Linked DNA regions of Homo sapiens. The gene in region 1 interacts genetically with each later gene. Each region holds a gene or a part of one and is shown in the gene's direction. Other genes may lie near its edges.

Region 1 (3,500 bases):
AGAGACTTGTCCATTTGAGTCCTTTCAGAGCTCAGTGAATGGGAGGGGGTAGTGCATTGTGGGGATGATTTTGGTGTTAGATTATACTTAGCTCCACCCCTTTAGTGCAGGTCCACGTGAAACCAAGTGCAACTTCATTCTAGCTGTTTGAGATTTGCAGGGCTCTCCCAGAAAGAAAACAGACAATTAGAATTTTATTTGTATCAACAAGAGGGATTGTGGGTAATTCTGGTGCACAGCTCTTAGCTGGGAGGAGGGCCAAGAATCAGGGTGATTTAGTAGACAGGAGTATCTTGGGCTGCTCTGGAGACCAAAGATGGGCAATTAATTTGCATGTAAATAAACCACCTTAGGTAGTATATAGCAAACAGGAGCCGCAGACACATGCCAAATATTGTCTCTTGGCCTTTAAGCTCCTTAGGTATAGTCGCAGCCCAACTTATCTTTATGTAGATGATCAGAGGGAACAACAGTAAGTTCAAAAGGACTAGATACTTAAATAGGTTCAATTCTGTCGCACTATTTCATGCTACTGTTAGAAGGCATCTATAATTTTGCGCTAAAGTTGTATGATACAGAGTACCTACCTCTACCCTCAGGTTATGTGGTGTTCCAAACTTGACTGTCCTCTCAGCTTCATATTTCATGTCACTATAGTTCAGTAAACATTCATTTTACAGTGAATCCAGACTTAACAAGATTAGGACAACTTTAGAAGTGCTCCAGGCATCTGCCCCAAAAAGAGAGATATGCTATGGAGAACCATGGTTGTCATGGGAACCACATGTCCAGTTCAACAGAGCTGTAGGTGAGGTATTATGTTTAAGAGACCAGGAAGTAACTCAGATGACTACAGGTGCTCCCAGTCTCCTCTTCCTCTGTAATGACTGGGACTTTTAGGATTAAATAACAGGAGAATTTCAAGTCCTTTCGTTTTCACAACTCTTGATAGATTTTTGTCTGTACATCTTCTCTAGTACAAGGATTAATGTGAGGCAGCATTATTCTTGTGCTAAGCCAAGTTATTTACTCTTGTTCCATTTTTTGAATTTCTGGCCCTCTGTTTGTATAGATTTAAGCTACCTGAACTTCCCATGTACAGACTGGCTCTCTAGATTAGCTCAGTGCAACGTTGTGCATTCAAGGTGAATGTTCAGAGCATAATTTCCGTAATTCCTAGAGTGTAGGTGTGATGAAGTTCTTCTTGCTTTGGGTTGTTTGTGTTCCATTTGGAGGGGAGACCCCTCTGATGGGGACCTGCTGAAGTGCTCTTATCATGCTCTCCAGCGCTATCTCTTCTGCCTGAAGCCAGAGCATTTTGCCATTCCTGATTTGGTGTTGGCAGTTTTGGTCCATCTCCAGCTGACCGTTCTTTGTGATTCCAAGCAGGCTAAGGCTTTGACTTGGATATTTAGATACTGCCAGTTAGCCTGACCTGCCACAGGTACCTGAGAGAATTTATTCTGAGTATGTGGTGTCAGAAGTTGTGCCCTCTAAGAACTGCCTGTCAGGCACTGCCTGTGTGCAAGGAAGCCCTTGGCAGGATAGCACCTTGGATCTACTTTTAAAAAATAGGAACTCAGAATTCAGTTGTCATCTTATCAGCTCTGTCATAATGATCTCAGATTCATGCATCTAGGTTTTATAGAGGTTTTAGCTTCTGTTGTATGATTTGGTGAGAAGGTCTTAAACTAGTGCCTTTTAGTGGGCTTGGGACTCATGGTGATGGTTTCACATTAAAGAAGCACCAGTGACTTAACTCTTTCTTCCCCTGGACACCCATCTGGGGAATCTCTTACAGTGGAGGTGATCACATCTTAAGAAGGGGCCACTGGAGCTTTCTCTAGTCACTTCCTAACCACAGACTGGTGGCTCTTCTGTCACATAAGCAAGTTGGGGGGGACCACTGATGTTACAGGAGAGTCACACTTTGTCCCCCTGAATAACTTTTATTTTACTTATGCATGAGCTGGATGCATCGAGCTACTTTGGATGTTCCTGTCGCAAGCGTTGCTCACCCCTTTCTCCCCCTTTAGCAGAGCCTAATTCTGGAGACTCCTAACTGCCCACCTCGAGAAATCCTTCCCAGTCCACTCGCCAGGGACAGTGCTGACAGCGTGTACTTCCAGGCTGTACCCCACCCACCTTGTACCAAGCAAAAGGAGTGACATTCCTAATGTGTTCTTTCTCCCATTCTTCTAGGCTGACAAACGGGCTCATCATAATGCACTGGAACGAAAACGTAGGGACCACATCAAAGACAGCTTTCACAGTTTGCGGGACTCAGTCCCATCACTCCAAGGAGAGAAGGTGAGTTTCCTGAGAAAGCTGAGTAGCTGGCCACTACTAGCTTGGAACTTGTTGCAGAGCTTAGCAGAGCACTCACCTATTGGGAAGGAAATGTAGTCAGAGATATTCAGGTAGCATGGTTGCCTTATTTTTGACTGTTTGGAGGATCACTGCACACCTTACGTACTCCAGTTTATCCTTAACAAAATATGTCAGATATAATGGAGCTATTTGTGAGATAATGGTAGGAGTTATCTTTTAAAATTTGTATTATTTGTAATAAATTCAAGAAATTATAACTATACACTATAGTATAAAGAGTGGCCAAGAGTTCGTTTGGGATAACAGTAAAGATTCCAGAGGTCATTAATACCCTAGACCTCCATGAGAATTCCTTTCCTATGGTTCAAAGTTAATACTTTATTGTAAATGAGCACTTGCAGAAATGTGTGTAATGTATGTGAAAAACAACCTGGGCACCATTGATTTTCCAGCCCCAATAATTGTTATTTCCAAGGCGTATAAAGAGCATTTTAAGCTGTGGGACAAAAGACTTGAGTGAAGAGACATGTTCATGTGAAACAGAAAAAAAATAACCATTCTTCCCCACTCCCTTCTGGAACCTAGTGTTTTCCCTGGAGGGCTAGGCACCAGCTGTTTCTACATTTGAAAAACAAAATTAGAAGCTTTGAGTAAAAGCCTATGGGTTAGGGTCACTCCCTGGAATTTGGAGAAAACATCTGCATGGCTAGTTCCATCCTTGACAGAGAGTGTAGTTGTCTGTAGCAATTCATTGGAATAACTGGCAAGCTGGGAAGAGGACCTGTGTTTTTGCTTTAGTGATCCAGTGTTTTATAAAGAAGGAACTATTCTGTTAAGAACAATCTTTGCTTTTGGGTGCACTTTGATTTAGTTCTGTGGTGGGGGTCCTGGATTTGTTTGGTTATCCAAGATCAAATTTGGAACCCTTATGCTTTCATTTTTTATATTGTCACTCTGGTAAGTTATGGCCTCTATACTTTATCTAAGGTGTGGCTTTCCATGTGGCGTAAACATGGAGAAGTTCTGACCTTTATAAAGAACAAAACAGGCCATGTACATACCTGGTATTGCAAAACCAGAATTTGCCATGGGTTAAGCCTACTTAGTGTGGACTTGATTTAATGACCTTAAACCAAGGTACTTACCTGGAATAACAACCTTCCTGGGTA
Region 2 (3,500 bases), on another chromosome or scaffold:
CTCTTTTTCCTTTCATTTTCTCCTAATTCTACAACTTGTTTGGTATGTGGTCTGCCTTTCAAGGTATGGTAGGTGACAGTTTGACTTAATGTTTTAGTCACTGCATAATAATTCCAGCCTGCAACATCGGGATTTTTAATATCTACCCTTTTACCTCTTCCATTAAGCTAGTGCAGCATTTTTGGTTTCATTATTTCAGTACCCCTCTTTTGATCCCTGTTATTTTATTGATCAGTGTTCTTAGTTTAAGGCAACAATCCATTTTTATAGTTTAAGCAGAGAGGATGTGGAAAAATCATGATAATAGGGAGATGAAGAAATGGATTCCGGGTTGAACTTTCCAGAACAAATCAAAACACATAGCACAAACGGGCCATCAAAGGAGTATCTTAATCTCCTTTGATCAGGAAGCAATAGAATTAAAAAGTGATTGTTAACAAATTACTGGTCCCAGAATTAGCCTGTGCTGTTACAACCTGCATAAGTAAAAAATGAATTCCCCTGTACCCTCATTTTTCTGTGTAACTAACATATTAGGTTGGTATGGCTAAGAAACTTTCTTTAAAAAAATTGATTGGCTTGTAAGGGTCAGTCTGCAAAGTTTGAATTTTAAAATAAGCTTGTTACTTGTCAACCTAAATAACAAACAGAGGCTCTCTAAAAGAAAATGATGTTTGGGAATAGAGCATTGCAGTGGGAATGCCATAGTAAACTTGTGCATATTCAGGGAGGTAAGGAAGACAGAGGTTTTTGAAGACGAAAATGAGGATGACATAATTGTTTTGAAATAATTATCCTTGGCTCCAAAGATTAATAACAAAAGTGACGCCAGTCGGAGGTTGGGCAGGCAGTTGTTGGGCAGATGTCCTTGCAGAAGTATTTTTTTGTGTAAGGTTGCAGTGGGCTTTGTGCAAGGTTATGGTTTTCATAGTCATTTTCATTATCAGGTGTATAAGCATGAGAACCCTCTCTTCATGGCTTTCCCTAGCTCTGTTTGAGTCTGACAACTTTGACACATTTATATAAGAAGGTTGTTGTGAAGAGTGAATTGATTTGTTTTTCTTGCTGTCCCACTAAGTTTGTAACATACTTGTTCATTGCTTCAGACTACTTAACTCTGCTCTAGAAGAAAGGTAGCTCATACTGAGGATTCTAGAGTTATAGAGTTAAATTTTTTTAAGACCTCCCCCCCAACCTTTTTTTTTTTTTTTTTTTGAGACTCTGTCGCCCAGACTGGAGTACAGTGGTGCAGTTTCATTTCACTGCAGTCTCTGCCTCCCGGGTTCAAGTGACTCTCCTGCCTCAGCCTCCCAAATAGCTGGGACTACAGGTGTGTCACCACGCCCAGCTAATTTTTATATTTTTAGTAGAGATGGGGTTTCACTGTGTTGGCCAGACTGGTCTTGAACTCCTGACCTCAAGTCATCCACCTGCCTTGGCCTCCCAGAGTGTTGGGATTACAGGCGTGAGCCACTGCACCTGGCCGTTTTTAGCCCTTTTTTAAAATTTGAAATATTAACACAAAATGCACAAAGCATAAAAACTCAGCTTCTCAATTGCAGAAGCTACGTAACCTCACTCCTCAAGAAATTGAATATTGCCAGTATTCCAGAAGACGCTCAGTCTCATTTTCTTAGTCCGTTTTGTGCTGCTACAGCAGAATACCTGAGACTAGGTAATTTATAAAGAACAGAAATTGATTTCTCACAGTGTTGGAGGCTGGGAAGATTGAGGGACTGGCATCTGGTGAAGGTCTTCTTGCTGCATCATCCTATGGCATTAGGCAGAAGGGCAATGAGAAGTTTGAGAGAGAGAGCAAGAAATGGTCAAACTTGTCCTTTACAGGGAACCCACTCCTGAGATAATGGCTTGAATTCATTGATGAGAGTGGTGCCTCCATGGCCCAAACTCCTCCTGTTAGGTCCCACCTCCCAACACCATCACACTGGGGATGAAATTCCCAATACATGACCTTTGGGGGATACATTCAAACCATAGCAGCAATACACTGCTTTCCAATTACAGCAGCCTGCCTCTAGTGAGCCACCATCTTGGCTTGTGGGGTCAGTTTGCCAGGTCTTAGAGAAATAGTAATGATGTCTGAATTTTAAAATATATTTAGCTTATCAGCACTGCAAGTATGAAAGGATTTTCATTTGCTTTTCTTTATGTCTTTACTACCTAATTATGCATCCCTAAACTAGTTTTATTGCCTAATTTTGAACTATTATATATATGTGGAATTGTACAGTATATATGTAATTGTGCCTTTTTCTGCTCATTTTGTCAGTTTTAAAACAACTGGAATAAAAAAGCTAGACGTTTTATTCCAGTTGTTAAATGTATTCCTAGCTTTTTGTTTTGATTGTTGAATGTTATTCCCTCGTGAATATGCCACAATTTGTCTATTCTGTCCTTGCTGTCATGACAGTGGGATGTTTAGATTTTCTTTCTTCTTTCTTACTTCTATTTCTTAATTACTGTGTCTCAGCCACATAGGTTTTCTTTTTGAACATTTGAAATGTTGATATAAAGTTTTATAATACTGTCATATTAACAGTATCTTTCACATTATCTTTTGGTCTGTAACAATACAAATATGTATTTTTTATGTTTCTAATAATTTGTGTACATGGCATTTTATTTGTTGTTAACAGTACCTCCTTATACCTCCTTAGATGACCTCCCTTGTGCCCTTAATCCTGTATTTCTTTCTTCCATCCTCCCTTCTAGCACCGTTTTTTTTTTTTTTTTTTTTTTTTGAGACGGAGTTGCTTTCGCCCAGGCTGAAGTGCAGTGATGTGATCTTGGCTCACGGCAACCTCCGCTTCCCGGGTTCAAGTGATTCTCCTGCCTCAGCCTCCTGAGTAGCTGGAATTACAGGCCCCCACCACCACACCCAGCGAATTTTTGTATTTGTAGTAGAGACAGGGTTTCGCCATGTTGGTCAGGCTGGTCTCGAACTCCTGACCTCAGGTGATCCGCTTGCCTCGGCCTCCCAGAGTGCTGGGATTACAGGCATGAGCCACTGCACCTGGCCTACTTCTAGTATTAATAACACTGCAACTACTTTTTATATTCCACTAGATTCCAGTTTATATTAAACTACCTTAATGTAAGGTTATTTAGTAAAGCCATACCTGGTTTTTGAATAAATGCTTGAACTCTGTACCAAAATGTAAGAGATCTGTTTTTGCTTCTTGAGATCCTGAATGACTTTTATTTCCCTATTTTTTATAACAGTGAAACCAATCCGTAATCTAAATGGACATTCAATTGGGCAATATAGAATACATGCTGGAAAAACAGTGCCGATTGTGAAAGGAGGGGAGGCAACAAGAATGGAGGTATGTGTGTCACTAACATTTTACTTCCATGGAAGACATTTTTTTCTTCCAAGCAGAAGGTCATGGTAGTTAAATATATGGTTATACTGACCAGAATTAGCTGCTTATCATCCATATTCACCCTGCCAGGAATTGGGCCATTTGAATTTGCAA
Region 3 (3,500 bases), on another chromosome or scaffold:
GGAAGTCTGTTTAAGAAGCAGGTCCCCACAGTCCTGTCCCACCTCCCATCCCCTCCAAGCGGCCGGGTGACTACCCTTCTTCCAACTTGGCAGATGGTTAAAAGGTTACTCTCCCGAGATTTATTCTTAGGAAGGAATAAGCCAGAGAGTACCTTGACTGTGGGACACCAGGCACACTGCAGGGGTAGGTAGGGGGAGCCATACTGAAAAGAGGGATTAAGAGAAAGTTCACAGTCTGAAGAGAGACACCACCCGAGCCTTCCCCCACCTGGCTTCTAGATTGGCAGCCAAAGAGAGTGGAAGTGCCCTCTCTATGGTGCGTGACCAATTAAGAGAAAAGACATTGGAAAAAAAAAAAGCCTAGTCAATTAATTCTGAGAAAATGAACAAGCATCACTCATTTGCAGAGCTTCCACTAAGCCTTTTAGTGTTTTATTCTTAAATATATGAGTGGATGGCCAAGGTCACTAAGCATAGGAAGAAACCCCCTGGTAAGAAAGACACGGGTCAGGCGCGGTGCCTCATGTCTGTCTGCAAGCCCAGCACCTGGGCAGGCTGAGATGGGAGGATAGCTTGAACCCAGGGAGCTGAGGCTACGGTGAGCCATGATCGCACTGCTACACTTCAGCCTGGGTGACATAGACTCTGTCTCAAAGAAGAAAGAAAGAAAGAGAGGAGACAGAGAGAGAGAGGAAAAAAGAGAAAGACAAGACAGAAGAGCAGAAAAAGCCACGTGGAGGAAACAGTAGCCACAAAGGAATGGAGTGGTTCTGCAGCTGTAAACATGAGAAGAGGCTAGGATCCAACCTGCAAACCTTCAGTATAGGCGTGTCTTTGAGTTTATAGGCAAATGAGGGAGGAATAAGGGCAGAGGAGGAAGGGAGAGGAGACCTCGTGAAGCCTGGGGGAGTCAGAAGGCTTGGTAAGAGTGATGCCAACAATGAGTCTTCAATTAGGAAAGGGAGGCAGGAGGAATGTTGGTATAGGAAAAACATGTAAGGACACGAAGCCAAGAAATAGCATCTACTCATGGGAGTCAGCTTCTAGCTTGGTGGTGTTGAGCATACATCCAAGGCAGGAAGAGGTGGCTGGGGAGGAGGGAAGAGCCAGGAAACAGAGTGCAGGTGTCTTCTGAGGGATGGGGAGCTAGTGAAACTGTCAGGCTGGAAGCCAGTCAAGACACAGTACTGGCGGGTGGAGATGAGGGCTGGGACCATGTCCGGTCCACCCAGGTGGCGCTCTCTGGCCCTGGGTCCCTTCCTTTCCTATAACTTCCCCAATGATCCTTTTATTCTTTGTTTACTTCTTGCACAGGGGTGAGTAAGGAGGTAAAATCTGAAGTAGTGAATTTAGCCTTTCTTGTTCTCATAAAGAATTCAGAGTTTTTGAAAAATTATTTAATAAAAGTAACAACTGCAAGTTTAGAAGTACAGAGAAACGTAAAATGGAAAATGTGTTCCTTCCCCCAAGTCCCCTCACCTGTAGTAACTGCTGTTAATACTTTCCTAAGTTCCTTCTGGGAATTACATATGAATGTCATTTCAAAAATTTATACAAATTGAGATCACGTCGTACTTGACTTTTTTCACTGATTAGTCTCTTTTGGCCACCTTTCCATACTGCACATAAAGATCTACCTCATTAAGGCAGCTGCAGAAAATTGCATCTTGTGGATGCAGCATAACTGATGGAACTGGTTTTCTGTTGATGGTCTTCTAGCTGTTTTTCTTATTCTTGCTATTACCAGCACAGTGCTGGGGTTAGCATCTTTGTGTAGGAGTAAGTTTATGATCAGATAAATCCCAGCAGTAGAATTGCTGGGGCATAGGGTACAAACATTTTTTATAGTGATAGTTATGCTAAATTTAGAGCACTACGTCTTTTTAGCTAACTCTTTTCCAAAATTCAGTCCTTGTAGACTAGACTGCTTCAGTTAACCTAAAATGGCCTATAAATCTGCCACCCAGAAAGCATTAAACAAAAATTAAAGTTGTAGACGGATTCTACAAGTACCCATGGATATGAAATGGAAACAGGGCCTCTCCCTTCACTCCTCCCAGCTCCCTTGCAAAGCTGTGTAATATTCCACTTTATGAACGTGCTGTCGTTTATGTAAACAGTTTCTTGCTCAAGGACACCGTCATTGTTTCTGCATTTTGCTGTTGGAATCAGCACTGCAGCAAGCATCTTTGCCCATGCTATCTTGGTGAACTCTTGGTAGTCTCTGTGGGGGTAAATTTCTAGCAATGGGATATGTGAATCTGTTTGGGTCACTATGAGCAAAGAATGCCCTGATCTATGCTTCCACCAACAGTTTTTGTGTCTTTCCCCATCACCTGCCATCACCATTAAACTTTTAACTTTGGCAAATCTCATAGGTCAGAAATGATATATTGATCTTTCATTAAGTTAGGTAAAGCATCCCTTCATAGGCGATTTTATATGTCACTTTTATTTTTCCCTATAAACTGTCCATTTCTCTGTTAGATTTTTTTATGTACAGAAAGGAAATAATGTGTGTCAAATGTACTGTAAATACTTCCTCCAGGTTGTTGCTTTTCTTTTGACTTTGTTCATAGTCATGGTTTTTCTATTTGTTTTTCATTCAGATGCATATAATTTCATGTAGTCAGATTTGTTAGGCCTTTCCCTTATGGCTTCTGAGTTTTGGTCCTACTTAGAAAGGCTTTCCCACTCTAAAATTATAGGTATTGATCTCTTTTTTCTAGAACTTTCATGGTTCCATTTTTTACTTGTAATTCTTTGAGGCTCCTGGAATTTATTTTGGTGGGAAGAATAAGGGGGCCTCGGTTAGCCACATCTTCCCACTGCTGTTTTTGAATATTTGTTATTTTCCCTGCTTGCAGTGCCACCTTTACCATGCACTGAATTCCCACATGTTTTCTGATCTACTTATGGACATTCTCTCCTTCTCCAGCACCAAACTATTTTAGTTCTTAAATCTTCATGGTACATTTAATTATCTTTTAAGGTTAATTTTTCACCCTTCCTCTTTCTTGTCAGTATTTCCCTGGCCCTTCCTTTCCCGTGGAGTTTTCTAGCAGCCTGCCTGATGCTAGATCATGATGCTTTTGTTAATGGAACATTTCGTCTTTAATCTGCTTCTTTACTTCCAAGCCTGTTGATACTACTCATTGGCCAGGTCGTTGAGCCTCGCTTTTGAGTATTATAATCAGCATTTAATTAGTCTCTTTGCCTTTATGCTTATTTTATCTTGTGAATGTTATTTGGCTAATTTTTCTTTGTTCTCCATTCTTCTCAAATTGAGCCCAAACTTAGGCCTTTACTCAGGGATCTCTGCAGACCATTTTCAGATTGTCTGCCTGAATAACCCAACACAAAGCCCACAGAGGGTCCTCTTGCTGCAGGTGCTGTTGGGTGGGCGGAGTCCTCCAGGCTGGCAGACCCTCCAGCCCCTCCACTAGAAGTGCCCACAGAAATGCTGCACAGAGCCCTGTGAACCAGAGCCTCTCCTGTAC
Region 4 (3,500 bases), on another chromosome or scaffold:
ATTTGCTTTAACAGTATTAGCATTTAAATTGTCACAACTAGGCTCTAAAGTTAACGCCCCATTAAGATGCACGAGGAAAGTTCATAGCTCTGTTCGGTACTATTATTTCAGTCTGTGCAGCCTGCCACCTCAGAGCAGTAGCAAAGTGTTGATTACATAATGAAGATGTCTTCCCACCAAAGGACTGGAAACCAAAAGAAAAGAAAACAGAAAAACACAATTGGAAATTAAAACTACATAAAGTTAGACATTCTTCAAAGCCCAGTGGCTCATTGAATTAAGATTTTGTTTGAGTTTTGATGTGAACTTACTACTTTGGTGATTCATGGTAGTCTCTCTGAAGATATTTTTATGGGATTTTTTATAGAGAATTGGTATGACAGTTCAGTGTGCAAATTAGAATCGAGGAGAAACTAGAAAGACTAGTACAGCAAATTATGTCAGGAGTCTGAAAACCTAGTGGTTTTTTTTTCTTCTTTTCTTTTTTAAATGTCTCTGATTTTACCCGCTGTGACGACAACATTGCACTTAGAACTTGATGTGGCAGTTAATGTTGAAAACAGAATTAAATTTTACTTTTTTTTTCTTTTTATAGAGTTGGGATCTCACTACGTTGCCCAGCCTGGTCTCAAACTCCTGGGCTCAAGCAATCTTCCCACCTCGGCCTCACCAAGTGCCAGGATTACAGGCATCAGCCACTGAGCCTGGCCTAAATTTTATTTTCACTTTTCCATCTCTGAATAGGGTTTGAGAGAATATAGGAAGTAAGAATTTGTCTTTGAAGTTGTTTTAACATAATTCGTTTAAAGGTCCAAATTCTAACAGAAAAGTGCTACTTAAAAAGCTAGGTTCGTTTTGCTTTCTCAAATTAAGTCAAACTAAAGAATTTTAAAATAAAAGTATAAATTTGGTTTTGTATTTGTCTCATTTCAAAGCATAGGTCAGACAGATTCATCGACCTTTTTTTTTCTTTCCCCACTTTAAAAAAATGAAAAATTTCAGGCACGTAACAAAAAGTATGGGATATTCATGTAATCTTTGAGATGTGGTCTTCCTATGTTGCCAGGCTGGTCTTGAACTCCTGGCTTCAAGTGATCCTCCTGCCTAGGCCTCCCAAAGTGCTGGGATCACAGACATGAGCTGCCATGCTCAGCCTTTATTTTATTTTGAAATAATTTCAATGTATGGAAAAGTTACAGGAATAGTACAGAAAACTTTAGTATAGCCTTATCAAATTCATTCAATATTTAAACCTATTTTATTGAAGTATAAAATAAACTGCATATATTTTGATATGTTTTGACATAACATATCCACCAGTAAAACCATCAACACAGCCAAGATAATGATCACCCACCACAGTTTCCTTGTGCCCTTTTGTAATCCCTTTCCTCTACCCGTACCCTCCCATTCCCAGGCAAACCACTGTTCTGCATTCTGTCACTATAATTTCTATTTCTAGAATTTTACACAAATGGAATTATATAGTATATACTCCCCCCACTCTTTTAATCAGCATAAATGATTTGAGATTTATTCATGTTAGATTCACTAGATTCTATTAAAAATACAAAAAAATTAGCCGGGTGTGGTGGTGCATGCCTGTAGTCCCAGCTACTTGGAAGGCTGAGGCAGAGAATCACTTGAACCTGGGAGGCAAAGGTTGCAGTGAGTGGAGATAGCACCACTGCACTCCAGCCTGGGTGACAGAGTGAGACTCTATCTCAAAAAATAAAAATAAAAAAAGTCCAACTGATCCTAGCTGATGACAGTAAATTATTTTATTTGAAATACAGTGCCAAGAAGGCTATAGTATAGTGCATCTTCTACAGAGCAGATTAATGACAAAAATGAATTCAAACTTTATAGAAACTAACTGCAGAGAGCATCCTTGTTTATTTATTTTTTGTTAGTATTGTTCTTTAATTTTGAGCAACCTTGTAAAATTGTCTTTAGTTATTTCCTTAATTACAATGGCATGATAGAAAAAGACTCTTGACTCCCTTTCTCTGATCATAGAGTGTCCTTAATAGGTGGCAAAAGTTTGATCTGCTGGCAAATTTAAATTCTTTATACTGTCTGTTTCACTGCAAGAAATATTTTCTCTTTGGAAACTCAGACACTGAAATTTGGGGCTATTTATCTTGGTTGCAATCCGACATATCAATAATGTAAAAATTTTTTGAGACACTTTAAATAGGCTCTAAGAATTTCTCTTCTGACCTCTCAATTTTACCTTTTCTAGATGTATTCTTGGGGAACTATTCACAAAGAAGCCTATTTTTCAAGCCAATCTGGAACTGGCTCAGCTAGAACTGATCAGGTACAGCTGTACATGTGCTCTTGAGTGCCCAGGTGTGATAGGTATTCTCATCCTCCAGTTTCTAACACTTTCTAGTCATTCTGAATGAGTTTATGTTTCTTATGTCCAAGTAAGTTTCTCTTTACTCAGTCAGGTTTACCATATATTTTGTCATAGGCTATACATATAAAGAAGTTTTATTTCACCTAATTTTTAGATCTTACTTTGCATATTTTTTATTAGCTCTTCATATAAAAGCATACCATTTTGGGGATGGCTCTTCCATTCATAGCTCAGATGAGATTAAATTTATTCAGCAAACATTTATTGAGCCTGTTATACAACAGATTACTTTTAACATTAAACTTTAGGATTCAGAGATAAAAAATAGGTCCCCGCCTTCAAAGAATTCAGAGTTTAGTAAGGTATATAGCATGTAAATAGTTATAAAATACAACCTATAATAGAAAATATGGGGAAAGCCCAGGATTGGGCTGGCATTTGGGTGGGTTTGTTTTTGTTTTGTTTTTTTCAATAAAATTAAAGGGAAGAATATAGCAGGCTAATGTTTTTTGTATTTTTTTTTTTAGACAGGGTCTCGCTCTGTCACCTAGACTGGAGTGCAGTGGTGTGATCATAGTTCACTGCAGCCTCAAACTCCTGCACTCAAGTGATCCTCCCACCTTACCCTCCTGAGTAGCTTGGACTACACCTGTAGTCCCAGCTATTTTTCGTTCATTTGTTTTGTAGAGATAGGGTCTCATTATGTTTGTTGCCTGGGCTGGAACTCCTGGGCTCAAACAGTCCTCCCACCTTGACCTCCCAAAGTGCTGGGATTACACACGTGAGCCACCACACCAGCCTAATGCAGACTTTTTTTTTTTTTTTTTTTTGAGATGGAATCTTGCTCTGTCACCCAGGCTGGAGTGCAGTGGCGTGATCTTGGCTCACTGCAAGCTCCACCTCCCAGGTTCAAGCCATTCTCCTGCCTCAGCCTCCCGAGTAGCTGGGACTACAGGTGCCCACCACCACACGCGGCTCATTTTTTTGTATTTTTAGTAGAGACGGGGTTTCACCATGTTAGCCAGGATGGTCTCGATCTCCTGACCTCATGATCCGCCCACCTCGGCCTCCCAAAGTGCTGGGATTACAGGCGTGAGCCACCGTGCCCGGCCAATGTAGACATTTTTTAAAGGTG
Region 5 (4,277 bases), on another chromosome or scaffold:
ATGACCCTGTGTAGGCCTAGGCTAATGTGTGTGTTTATGTCTTAGTTTTTTTAAAAAATGGCTAAAAAGTTAAAAAAAAAAAGAAAAAAAGCAAAGGTAGAAAAAAGCTTGTAGAATAAGGATATAAGAAAAATATTTTTGTACAGTGGTACAGTGTGTGTTTTAAGCTAATTGTTATTACAAAACAGTTAAAACGTAAAAAAATTTGGAAGATTTATAAAGTTATAGTGAGTGAAAGTTTATTAAAGGAAGAAAAGTATTTTTTATAAACTGAGTGTAGCCTAAGTGTACAGTGTTTATGAAGTGTTTAGTGGGTACAATAATGTCCTAGACCTTCATGTTGGGCCACCACTCACTCATTTACTCACCCACAGCAACTTCCAGTTCCGCAAGCTCCATTCATGGTAAGCGCCCCATACAGGTGTGCCATTTTTATCTTTTATACCGCATTTGTACTGTACCTTTTCCATGTTTACATATGTTTAGACACACAGATACTTACCATGAATTACAATGGTCTGCGGTATTCAGTACAGCCCCATGCTGTCAGGTTTGCAGCCTGGAAGCAGCAGGCCACACCACAGAGCCGAGGTGTGTCCAGGCTCCACCATCTAGGTCGTCAAAGTACATTCTGTGGTGTTCGTACAGCAACAAAATCGCCTAATGACGCAATCCTCAGACCTTACCCTGTTGTTAAGGTACACATGACTCTTATTTTGTTCCTCCCGGATTTCCTGCATTAATTTTTACTTTTTAAAATATTACATTAATATATTATTTGATTGCCAGTTTTTCTGGTGCTCCCTTAAATTGCACAGCCTGCCAGCCCTTCCCTGGCTCCCCTTTCTTTTTCTGCTTTTCTTAGTGCTTCAACAGACCTGGGACGTTCTTTTTCTTTCTTTTTTTTTTTAATTTTCTTCTTTTTTTCTTTTTCTTGTTTTGTTTTGTTTTGTTTTGAGATAGAGTTCGCTCTGTTGCCCAGGCTGGAATGCAGTGGTGCGTTCACGGCTCAATGCAGCAACGACCTCCAGGGCTCAGGCGATCCCCCGACCTCAGCCTCCGGAGAAGCTTGGACCACAGGCGCGCGCCACCACGCCCAGCTAATTATATATTTTTTGTAGAGACAGGTCTCACTATGTCGCCTAGGCTGGTCACAAATGTTGCTTTTTTTTCCCTCCAGGCAGAGCTAGTCTCTGTTTTGCCTACCTCGCCCCCTCCTGGGCCCAGTTAGAAACCTCATCACATAATTTCATTTCTTTCCAAACTTGAAACCTTCTAAACTTGAAACCTTCTAAACTTGAAACCTTCCAAACTCACCACTTGGCGGCGTTGATCCATCCGCCCGCGCACAAAGAGAAGATCGCGGAACTTCAGAGTTAAGGGGAGCCGTTTCCCGCAGCGCTAGCCGGCAGTATTTCCAAGGCGCAAGTTGCGGAGTTTCTGTTTCCTTTTTCCTCTGGCGAGCTTTGCGTTCCCTGTGCGCCGGAAGTGATCCCCTGCGTGGCTGGGCTGCTCGGGTTAGATCGTCAGGTGAGGGAGGAAGGGATAGCCAGCGCGAAGGAAGTGCTGGAGTCGTGTGTTTTGGCTGCGCGTGATCCTGCGTGGGTCGGGAGGTGTTTCTGTGTAGGTGTCTGGCCCTTTCATCAGTCGTGCGGAGGACCGCGTGATTTCCTTCCAGTTCTCCTCGGTTTTCAGGTGGTGGCGCCATCTTCGGTAAAGGGTGTCCACCTCTCCCTATGGTGTGGCTGGCTAGCCCGGGGGTCTCTACGCTGCTTGGTCTTTGTTAACGGAGATGAAGGCAGTAATTTTTCAGTAACAGGTTTCAGATATAAGTCCCTTGGTGATGCTAATATTTATGGAGGCCTTACTATGCATTAAGAACTTTTTTAGAAGTTTAGAAAATGGCAGTGAATAAAGCAGATACAAATCTCTGCTCTAAGGGAGCTTGCATAGTAATGAAATTTGAGAAGACAGTGGATTGGAAGTGGGATTAACTCAGAATCAAAATTTTGTCGATGGGTTGGAGGAAGAGGAAGTTATTTGGGACCAAAAAGACATACAGGTGTGAGTTTATTTGGGAGGGAGGAAGGAATCCTCATCAGATGTGCAGGAATGTTGGTACGTTGTGGTCACAAAATTGGAGTGCATAAAAATTATGAATATAGTTAGGAATTTAGGACTGGTGAGTTGTACTTTTGCCATAAGAGGTAATGTTTTTTTCTTATTTTGTTTTTTTCCTTCAGGAAAAGCCTAAAGATTAGACTGTAAGAAAAGAAAATAGAAGCCATGTTTCGAAGACCTGTATTACAGGTAGTCACTTGTCTGTATTAATACTGAGATGTATTACTATCAGCCACAGTGATCAGAAGACTTCTTTAGGCTTTTAACTACAGGGGCAAAAGACCTTTGAGCTCACCCACCCACCTCTATACTCATTTGATATGGAGGATTGGGGACGATTTTGCCAGTGTAAATTATGTTCACTAAAACAAAAAAAAAGTTCAGGTTTATTCACACGTAATAGGAATCATTAATTTTTAAAATGTGTGTGTGTTGCTTGAATTTAACCAGTGAGAGGACATTAAAGGTCTTTAGTGACCTAAAGACTGTAGGAATCATTGTTCCAACTTTTTTCTTAAGGCATGTAGTTGCTTTTTTGACCATCTACCTCCTGTGTTGCTAAACGTTCCTCTTCCCCCATCTTTCCACACTGAAGAGAGCATCTCAAGTCTCAGTGGTCACCAGAGATTTCACTATGTAGAAAATGCCTTCTCATTCCACTTAGTATGGGTCCTCACTTTTCCAGACACTAGCCCACCTTGAGCCAGCTTAGACTACCATTTTTCCTCACTTACCACATTCGGGCACCAGCTCCTGTAGATTCTTCTTTGGCTCTCCTACTCCCCATCCTCCTGTGAAGACCAATGAAGAACCAGTTCCTCCATGACTCTGTCATTTTCCCCACCTTAATCCTATATTCTTGGATCCCCACTTTAACCTGTATGTATCTTTAATCTATTTTTTTCTGTATTGAAATGTGAAACATGAAAAAGTTATTGCTTCTTAACACTAACGTTACAGTATTAAAATGTCTTTAAATAAGAGTTAAAAGTTTAATTTAAAAAATTATCCAAGTTAAATAATCCTTTCCTAATCTTCTCCAGTAGATTTTTGTGTGCCCCAAATGAGACATTGTTATTATAAATCTCTGTGTAAGATTTATGAGGTCTAGCTTGTCTGAGCACTCAAATGACATTTCCAGAATCATGACACAGGTTCTCATTAGCAGTTTGATTCTATAGTATGTTGTACTCATATCTTTATTTTCTTATCTGCCCTCTGCTCCTAAGTTTAGTGATAGGATTAGATAGCCAACAGCACCCTGGGGATTGGTGTTTATTTGATTGGTGGACTTCTGCTTTTTATATTAACAGTACTGCCACTTCAAAAATGTTTCTCTGATAGAATGGCTAGCTCTCTGAGCTCTGAATTCAGTGATGTGTACTCCCATCTTTACAGGAGCTCTTGAAATTAAGGAGGCAGCAGAGGGCTTCGGGAAAGCAGTAGCATTGGTGTCAAGGGCCCTGGGTCCTTGAGATCACTTGCCACATACTTCCTGCAGGAGCTTGGGCAGGTGATGCAGTCTCTCTGAGGTGTTTTCTCAGCCCTAAATGGGAATAATTTTACATAACTTGTAGATTTAGTTTTAGAATTGATAATAGATAAATCCCTTAGCTGATATTCAGTAATGATTGCTGCTATTATGTGGTAGTGACTACCTTTGCTGACAGTGATGTGACTTTGACTTGGACAGTCGAGTCTTTGTGTTTAATCAAAGAACCAAATTTATTAGACCTTTTTTGATGCACTAAAAACAGGAAATTTCCTATGAAATATTTATAAAAACTGTATTAGGCTAAGCTCACTACTGAAGCTGTTTAATTTTTGCAATAGCCTTGTGAAGTAGGTATTATGTATCATAATTTTTGCTTATTTTAAAATGAAACACTTTAGATTAGTCATATTAGGTATCCTAATTCCTTTTAAGGTCTGAAGGAGCAACCAGGGGAAGGCAGTTTCATAGACACAGGGAATCTGACTTTGGAATATGTTCCTGTTGCTGTGTCAGAAAGTCATTCATGTGATTAGTTTTAGAATGTATTGTTTTGTTGGAATGTAACCTATCTCTCGTTCTCTAAACCAGCAGACCCCAACCTTTTTGGCACTGATAACTGGTTTCATGGAAGACAATTTTTCCATGGAGGAGGGGGGTGCCG
Region 6 (3,500 bases), on another chromosome or scaffold:
ATGAGAAACTTGAAACTTTTGATTCAGGTTTTGAAGAATTTCAACAAGGACATGCTTGAATCAGTATCAGGAAGTTGTAAAATGTTCTAATATTATATTTCCTCTGTATTTATTAAATACTCTTCCAAAACGAACAACTTTTCCCCTCCTATTTACTCTCGTTTTTTATATTTTATTTTATTTAGTATTACTAAATACTTAATGGACTTAGTGGGCTTTTATTATTCACTGTTACCACTGATGAGAGTCTTATTCTTTATGGTGCTAAGTTTGTTGCAAATTTGTTAGCAGAGGCTCCGTCAAGACACTTTGTCCTTTTGACATATCTCATTAGTCTTATTTTCTGATAAAACAAAATGTCACAGGTTCACCTGTTATTTTCACTCTAATAAACGTAGAATTATCTATTTCTCCTAGGATCCCTGGTTCCTTTTAGTGGGGGATAGTATTTAAAAACCAAGATCTTAGTGCTAGGTGTATCCATTGCTGTATTCCCAGTCCCTTATAAATTTGTGAAATATAACTAATAATTACATAAACCAGGCAGACACATACTGAAAACTACCAAGTGTGAACAAATTATTTTATTCATATTCAAAGCAAAGGAAACATTCCACAGTGCTTTGAGAGAAAATTATATATTTACAAATTTAGTCATATTCTAATAGCGACTAAGATACAATTTCCAAAACCCTTCAGATGATGTTATTTTGATGTAGTGTATTGTGATTATGAGAGAAAACATTGAATATATAGAACAGAGAAAAATACTTAACAATTGTGAATATATTTTTCTTAAATTGTTTTCCTGAATCTAAGTATATGCTTGGGCATTTCTTATGTATTTTTTAAACTTTATACAGGTAGAGAAAGTAGAATAATAAACCCTTGTGTACTTATCACCCAGCTTCAACAATTAACAGTTAATGGCCATCTTGTTGTACTTCTACTCCTACCTCTTCCCTCAACCTTTGAAGAAAATCCCAGACAGCTGATAGCTTTTTTTGGAAACTTGTAGCCTTTTCTCACCTATTGCCTTGGCTTTCTTGACAGGAGGGAGCTCTGACAGCCTTTCGCAAGACATATGACAAAACTGTGGCCCTGGGTCACCGATTGGATATTGTATTCTATCTCCTTAGGATTGGCTTATTTTATATGGATAATGATCTCATCACACGAAACACAGAAAAGGCCAAAAGGTACTTTCTAAGGGTGGGATTATATTTTCTCTAAATTATGATGCTACAAATGAGAAGCTGATATAAGAAACTGCCTGTTTTGTTTACAGCTAGTAAGTTTGGTCAAATAATTGATGTACTTATTTAGTAAAATAATTTAAATATCTCCTTTCGGTTCAAGTTGTTAAAAGTTGTTTTCTCATTTCAAATAACAGACAAGTTTTTAAAACGTGGCCTTGTCTGTTTCCAGACTATGATCTTACTGTTTTTATTTCATAGCTTAATAGAAGAAGGAGGAGACTGGGACAGGAGAAACCGCCTAAAAGTGTATCAGGGTCTTTATTGTGTGGCTATTCGTGATTTCAAACAGGCAGCTGAACTCTTCCTTGACACTGTTTCAACATTTACATCCTATGAACTCATGGATTATAAAACATTTGTGACTTATACTGTCTATGTCAGTATGATTGCCTTAGAAAGACCAGATCTCAGGGAAAAGGTAATGACCAAACTTTAATACTCAAATTTAAAGACTTGTTTTTTTTGTTTAAATACACAAATCATTAAAATGTACATTTTTTTTGTATATATGTTTTTTAAAATACCTAGGTCATTAAAGGAGCAGAGATTCTTGAAGTGTTGCACAGTCTTCCAGCAGTTCGGCAGTATCTGTTTTCACTCTATGAATGCCGTTACTCTGTTTTCTTCCAATCATTAGGTAAGGATAGGGTTGATATTTTTGATTATCTGTCTTCATCTTACTCCTGATCCTATGTGCAAATAACCTAAGACGATTTTTCACCTATCTGAGAAATGTAGTGTGTAGGTAGCTGCATGTCTTTGATCAGTATTCCTAATGTGCCCAGTTTTGTTTAGAAGAAGGGTCATCAGATTGTGGCCTGCTGTATGGCCCAGGAGGTAAGAATGATTTTTACATTTTTAAAGTGTTGTTTAAAAAAGGAGGATGTGACGGAGAGCTATGTAGCTTGCAAAGCCTAAAAATACTTACCCTCTGGCCCTTTGCTGAGGGTATTTGCCAGACCCCTGGTTAAGAGTCTTAATGGGGTATAAGGCAAAAGTGAGCAAATGGTTATTAAGTATTGAGCTTCATGGGGACAGAAGTGAGGGAATTCTGAATGTGATTTGGGGTGGAGATTAATTGAACCTTGAATTCAGCAATGGGCTATTCTGTATCAATAGCTAAATAGCTAAATCTCTGTGCTGATTTGCAAATCATTTTCAAGGGCTATGGGTTAAGAAAATAATCTCTTGAACGTAATTGTATTCCTTCAAAGCTAGTTTGTAGTGATCCTGCCTTCACACATTTGCTTGTTTCTCCCTCTTGTCCCCATTCTTTCCTGGCTATTTGGTTTCCTAATAATGACCACAAACTATTAAGATGATAGAAGAATCAGCTTGCATCAAGTTGACCCAGGGGTCTTTCCCAAAACTTAAAATTTGACATTGATATATTTTGTTTATGCTGCAAATTTCAGAAGGTGTTTGGTTAAATAGATAGCTTTGGAGAAAAGTGGGAATGGACGGTTCCAAATGACGATTGTTAATGTTTTTGCAGTGGGTTTTGGCCCAGTGTTTTTGGATGCTTTCTCCATGCATATAAATTGGGCTGCTTTATGAGAATTCATAGTATTTACCTCAGGTAATGTAGGAACAGGTTTCCCGAGCATGATGAGTAACTCACTTGGCCTTATCTTCTCATACATACACACACAGTTATGTTGCTTTTGCATATAAGGTTATATTGTAGAATTGCTCTTTTCCCTTTTTTATGCTTGAGGTCTCCTGGTCATCACTCAACTCAAATATGGAGCCCTTCCCTGCTTCCCTCAGTCAGAACAAATCTTACTTCTCTGCATTCCTGGGATTCTTATTGTATGCTCCCTCCTTCAAAAAAATTGAGGGAGCCCTTCCTTGCTTCCCTCAGTCAGAACAAATCTCTTACTTCTCTGCATTCCTGGGGTTATTGTATGCCCCCTCCTTTAAAAAAACTGAGGTATAAATCACACACCATAAAATTACCTCAAGTGTACAATTCAGTGCTTTTTCATATATTGGCAAGGTTTTGCAAATATTAATAATTCCAGAACATCTTGATCACCCCAAAAGGAAACCGACACCCATTAGCAGTCACTCCCTATTACTCCTTTCCCCCAGCCCCTGGCAACCACTGATCTACTTTATGTCTGTACGAATTTGCCTATTCTGGACATATCATCTAAATGCAGTCATAAAATACGTGGCTTTTTGTGCCTGGCTTCTTTCACTTTATAATGTTCCCACATTCATCCATGTTGTAGCATG
Region 7 (2,163 bases), on another chromosome or scaffold:
AGTAAACTGTAAGAGGCTGGGCGCAGTGGCTCACGCCTGTAATCCCAGCATTCTGGGAGGACAAGGCGGGCAGATCACGAGATCAGGAGATCAAGACCATCCTGGCTAACTCGATGAAACCCCATCTCTACTAAAAATACAAAAACAAAATTAGCCAGGCGTGGTGGCGTGTGCCTCTAGTCCCAGCTACTTGGGAGGCTGAGGCAAGAGAATGGCATGAACCTGGGAGGTGGAGCTTGCAGTGAGCTGAGATCATGCCACTGCACTCCAGCCTGGGCGACAGAGTGAGAGTCCGTCTCAAAAAAAAAAAAAAAAAAAAAACTGTTTAGAAAGTCTTGCAGTTAAATGTTTATGAACTTTGTATGACCACAGAACTTTTTTTTTTTTGGCCCATACAATGGCTTTCAACATTCTGAGAGCAAGTGTTTGGAAGAATACACCTTGAGAAACATTAATCTAGATGTGTGGTCCTGAGGAAAAGTTGTATCTATTCATTCTGGAAGCTTTTGTATACCGTATGGGGCCTGTGGCATTCTAGAGAACATTCCTCCTACCATCACCACACAATAGAACCTGATTTTCTGTCATTGGAATAAGTGGATAATAGGTTCCATACTGTGGGTTTTGAGAAGGGTAAAGGTGGGGCATAAGGGTAGAAGCGCTTTTCTCTAGAATCATGCTGAGAGGAGATATCTATTCCTTTAGGTAGAATTACTTTCTGAGACAGGAACTGTTAATGTCCTATTTACTGAAATTCCTTTTTTTTTTTTTTGCTTTGTCCACAGATGTGGGACCTAGGAAAAGGCCTGAAGATTCCCCAGCTATACCAGTCTGGAGTGGTTGTCCTGGTTCTTACTGTGTTGTCCTCTATGGGGCTGGCAGCCATGTGAAGAAAGGAGGCTCCCAGCATCATCTTCCTACACATTATTACATTCACCCATCTTTCTGTTTGTCATTCTTATCTCCAGCCTGGGAAAAGTTCTCCTTATTTGTTTAGATCCTTTTGTATTTTCAGATCTCCTTGGAGCAGTAGAGTACCTGGTAGACCATAATAGTGGAAAAGGGTCTAGTTTTCCCCTTGTTTCTAAAGATGAGGTGGCTGCAAAAACTCCCCTTTTTTGCCCACAGCTTGCCTACTCTCGGCCTAGAAGCAGTTATTCTCTCTCCATATTGGGCTTTGATTTGTGCTGAGGGTCAGCTTTTGGCTCCTTCTTCCTGAGACAGTGGAAACAATGCCAGCTCTGTGGCTTCTGCCCTGGGGATGGGCCGGGTTGGGGGGTGGGTTGGTGAGGCTTTGGGTGCCACTGCCTGTGGGTTGCTGGCTTAAAGGACAATTCTCTTCATTGGTGAGAGCCCAGGCCATTAACACCTACACAGTGTTATTGAAAGAAGAGAGGTGGGGGTGGAGGGGAATTAGTCTGTCCCAGCTAGAGGGAGATAAAGAGGGCTAGTTAGTTCTTGGAGCAGCTGCTTTTGAGGAGAAAATATATAGCTTTGGACACGAGGAAGATCTAGAAAATTATCATTGAACATATTAATGGTTATTTCTTTTTCTTGGATTTCCAGAAAAGCCTCTTAATTTTATGCTTTCTCATCGAAGTAATGTACCCTTTTTTTCTGAAACTGAATTAAATACTCATTTTATCTTTGACTCTCCTTGAAATCTAGAGAAACCAAGAAAATGGCTGTTGGGAAGGAACCAATTTCCTCCTCTTCCCTCGGGTCTCAGGCATTTACATCCTCCCTCTCCCCGCAATCTGACCTTTACCAGGAGGGAAACAGTTCTCCTACATCTCATCATTGGAAAAGTTTTCAGGGAATCAGATAGAACTTAGCCAGAGATTTAAATATCACAGAAAAGCCTCAGAGAAGGAAGGAGAAAAAGAAAAGAAGTGACGCATGTAGAGTGCTTTTGGGTTATAGGCACCAAAATCCCATTAAGGACTGATTATAAGCTTCATGGTACAGTTCAGCAAATTATGATTCATTGAGGGGCACAGAGGACCAGTGTTGGTGACAGCTAGGGGATGATGACCTGAGGTTATAGGCTTGGGGTGAATGAAGCATAGAGTTTTTTTTTAAAAAAGAAGGGATTGTTGAAAACCTGGCAAAAATGTATAATTTAATGAGAAAACTTGCTGCTTTTAAAATCCATATAGGCCA

What was found.
Region 2: changes in MAX (region 1) and METAP2 together harm fitness less than expected from each alone (positive genetic interaction), as found in Homo sapiens cells (one large-scale study listed by BioGRID).
Region 3: changes in MAX (region 1) and MED9 together harm fitness less than expected from each alone (positive genetic interaction), as found in Homo sapiens cells (one large-scale study listed by BioGRID).
Region 4: changes in MAX (region 1) and CDK12 together harm fitness less than expected from each alone (positive genetic interaction), as found in Homo sapiens cells (one large-scale study listed by BioGRID).
Region 5: changes in MAX (region 1) and SSBP1 together harm fitness more than expected from each alone (negative genetic interaction), as found in Homo sapiens cells (one large-scale study listed by BioGRID).
Region 6: changes in MAX (region 1) and PSMD6 together harm fitness less than expected from each alone (positive genetic interaction), as found in Homo sapiens cells (one large-scale study listed by BioGRID).
Region 7: changes in MAX (region 1) and SDHC together harm fitness less than expected from each alone (positive genetic interaction), as found in Homo sapiens cells (one large-scale study listed by BioGRID).

What each region holds. Positions count from the first base shown.
Region 1 is NC_000014.9:65,092,518-65,096,017, reverse strand, and holds part of MAX (protein max), read left to right. Parts: intron 1-1,706; exon of another isoform or gene 1,707-2,202; coding exon 2,203-2,310; exon of another isoform or gene 2,311-2,386; intron 2,387-3,500. UniProt on the Homo sapiens protein: Transcription regulator. Forms a sequence-specific DNA-binding protein complex with MYC or MAD which recognizes the core sequence 5'-CAC[GA]TG-3'. The MYC:MAX complex is a transcriptional activator, whereas the MAD:MAX complex is a repressor.
Region 2 is NC_000012.12:95,508,652-95,512,151, forward strand, and holds part of METAP2 (methionine aminopeptidase 2), read left to right. Parts: intron 1-3,243; coding exon 3,244-3,347; intron 3,348-3,500. UniProt on the Homo sapiens protein: Cotranslationally removes the N-terminal methionine from nascent proteins. The N-terminal methionine is often cleaved when the second residue in the primary sequence is small and uncharged (Met-Ala-, Cys, Gly, Pro, Ser, Thr, or Val).
Region 3 is NC_000017.11:17,480,000-17,483,499, forward strand, and holds part of MED9 (mediator of RNA polymerase II transcription subunit 9), read left to right. Parts: intron 1-3,500.
Region 4 is NC_000017.11:39,513,486-39,516,985, forward strand, and holds part of CDK12 (cyclin-dependent kinase 12), read left to right. Parts: intron 1-2,245; coding exon 2,246-2,323; intron 2,324-3,500. UniProt on the Homo sapiens protein: Cyclin-dependent kinase that phosphorylates the C-terminal domain (CTD) of the large subunit of RNA polymerase II (POLR2A), thereby acting as a key regulator of transcription elongation.
Region 5 is NC_000007.14:141,736,881-141,741,157, forward strand, and holds the start of SSBP1 (single-stranded DNA-binding protein, mitochondrial precursor), read left to right. Parts: upstream 1-1,477; 5' UTR 1,478-1,530; exon of another isoform or gene 1,531-1,713; intron 1,714-1,726; exon of another isoform or gene 1,727-2,118; intron 2,119-2,243; 5' UTR 2,244-2,286; coding exon 2,287-2,310; intron 2,311-4,277.
Region 6 is NC_000003.12:64,016,995-64,020,494, reverse strand, and holds part of PSMD6 (26S proteasome non-ATPase regulatory subunit 6), read left to right. Parts: intron 1-1,053; coding exon 1,054-1,199; intron 1,200-1,457; coding exon 1,458-1,677; intron 1,678-1,787; coding exon 1,788-1,896; intron 1,897-3,500. UniProt on the Homo sapiens protein: Component of the 26S proteasome, a multiprotein complex involved in the ATP-dependent degradation of ubiquitinated proteins.
Region 7 is NC_000001.11:161,361,544-161,363,706, forward strand, and holds the end of SDHC (succinate dehydrogenase cytochrome b560 subunit, mitochondrial isoform 1 precursor), read left to right. Parts: intron 1-785; coding exon 786-890; coding exon of another isoform or gene 891-997; 3' UTR 998-1,663; downstream 1,664-2,163. UniProt on the Homo sapiens protein: Membrane-anchoring subunit of succinate dehydrogenase (SDH) that is involved in complex II of the mitochondrial electron transport chain and is responsible for transferring electrons from succinate to ubiquinone (coenzyme Q).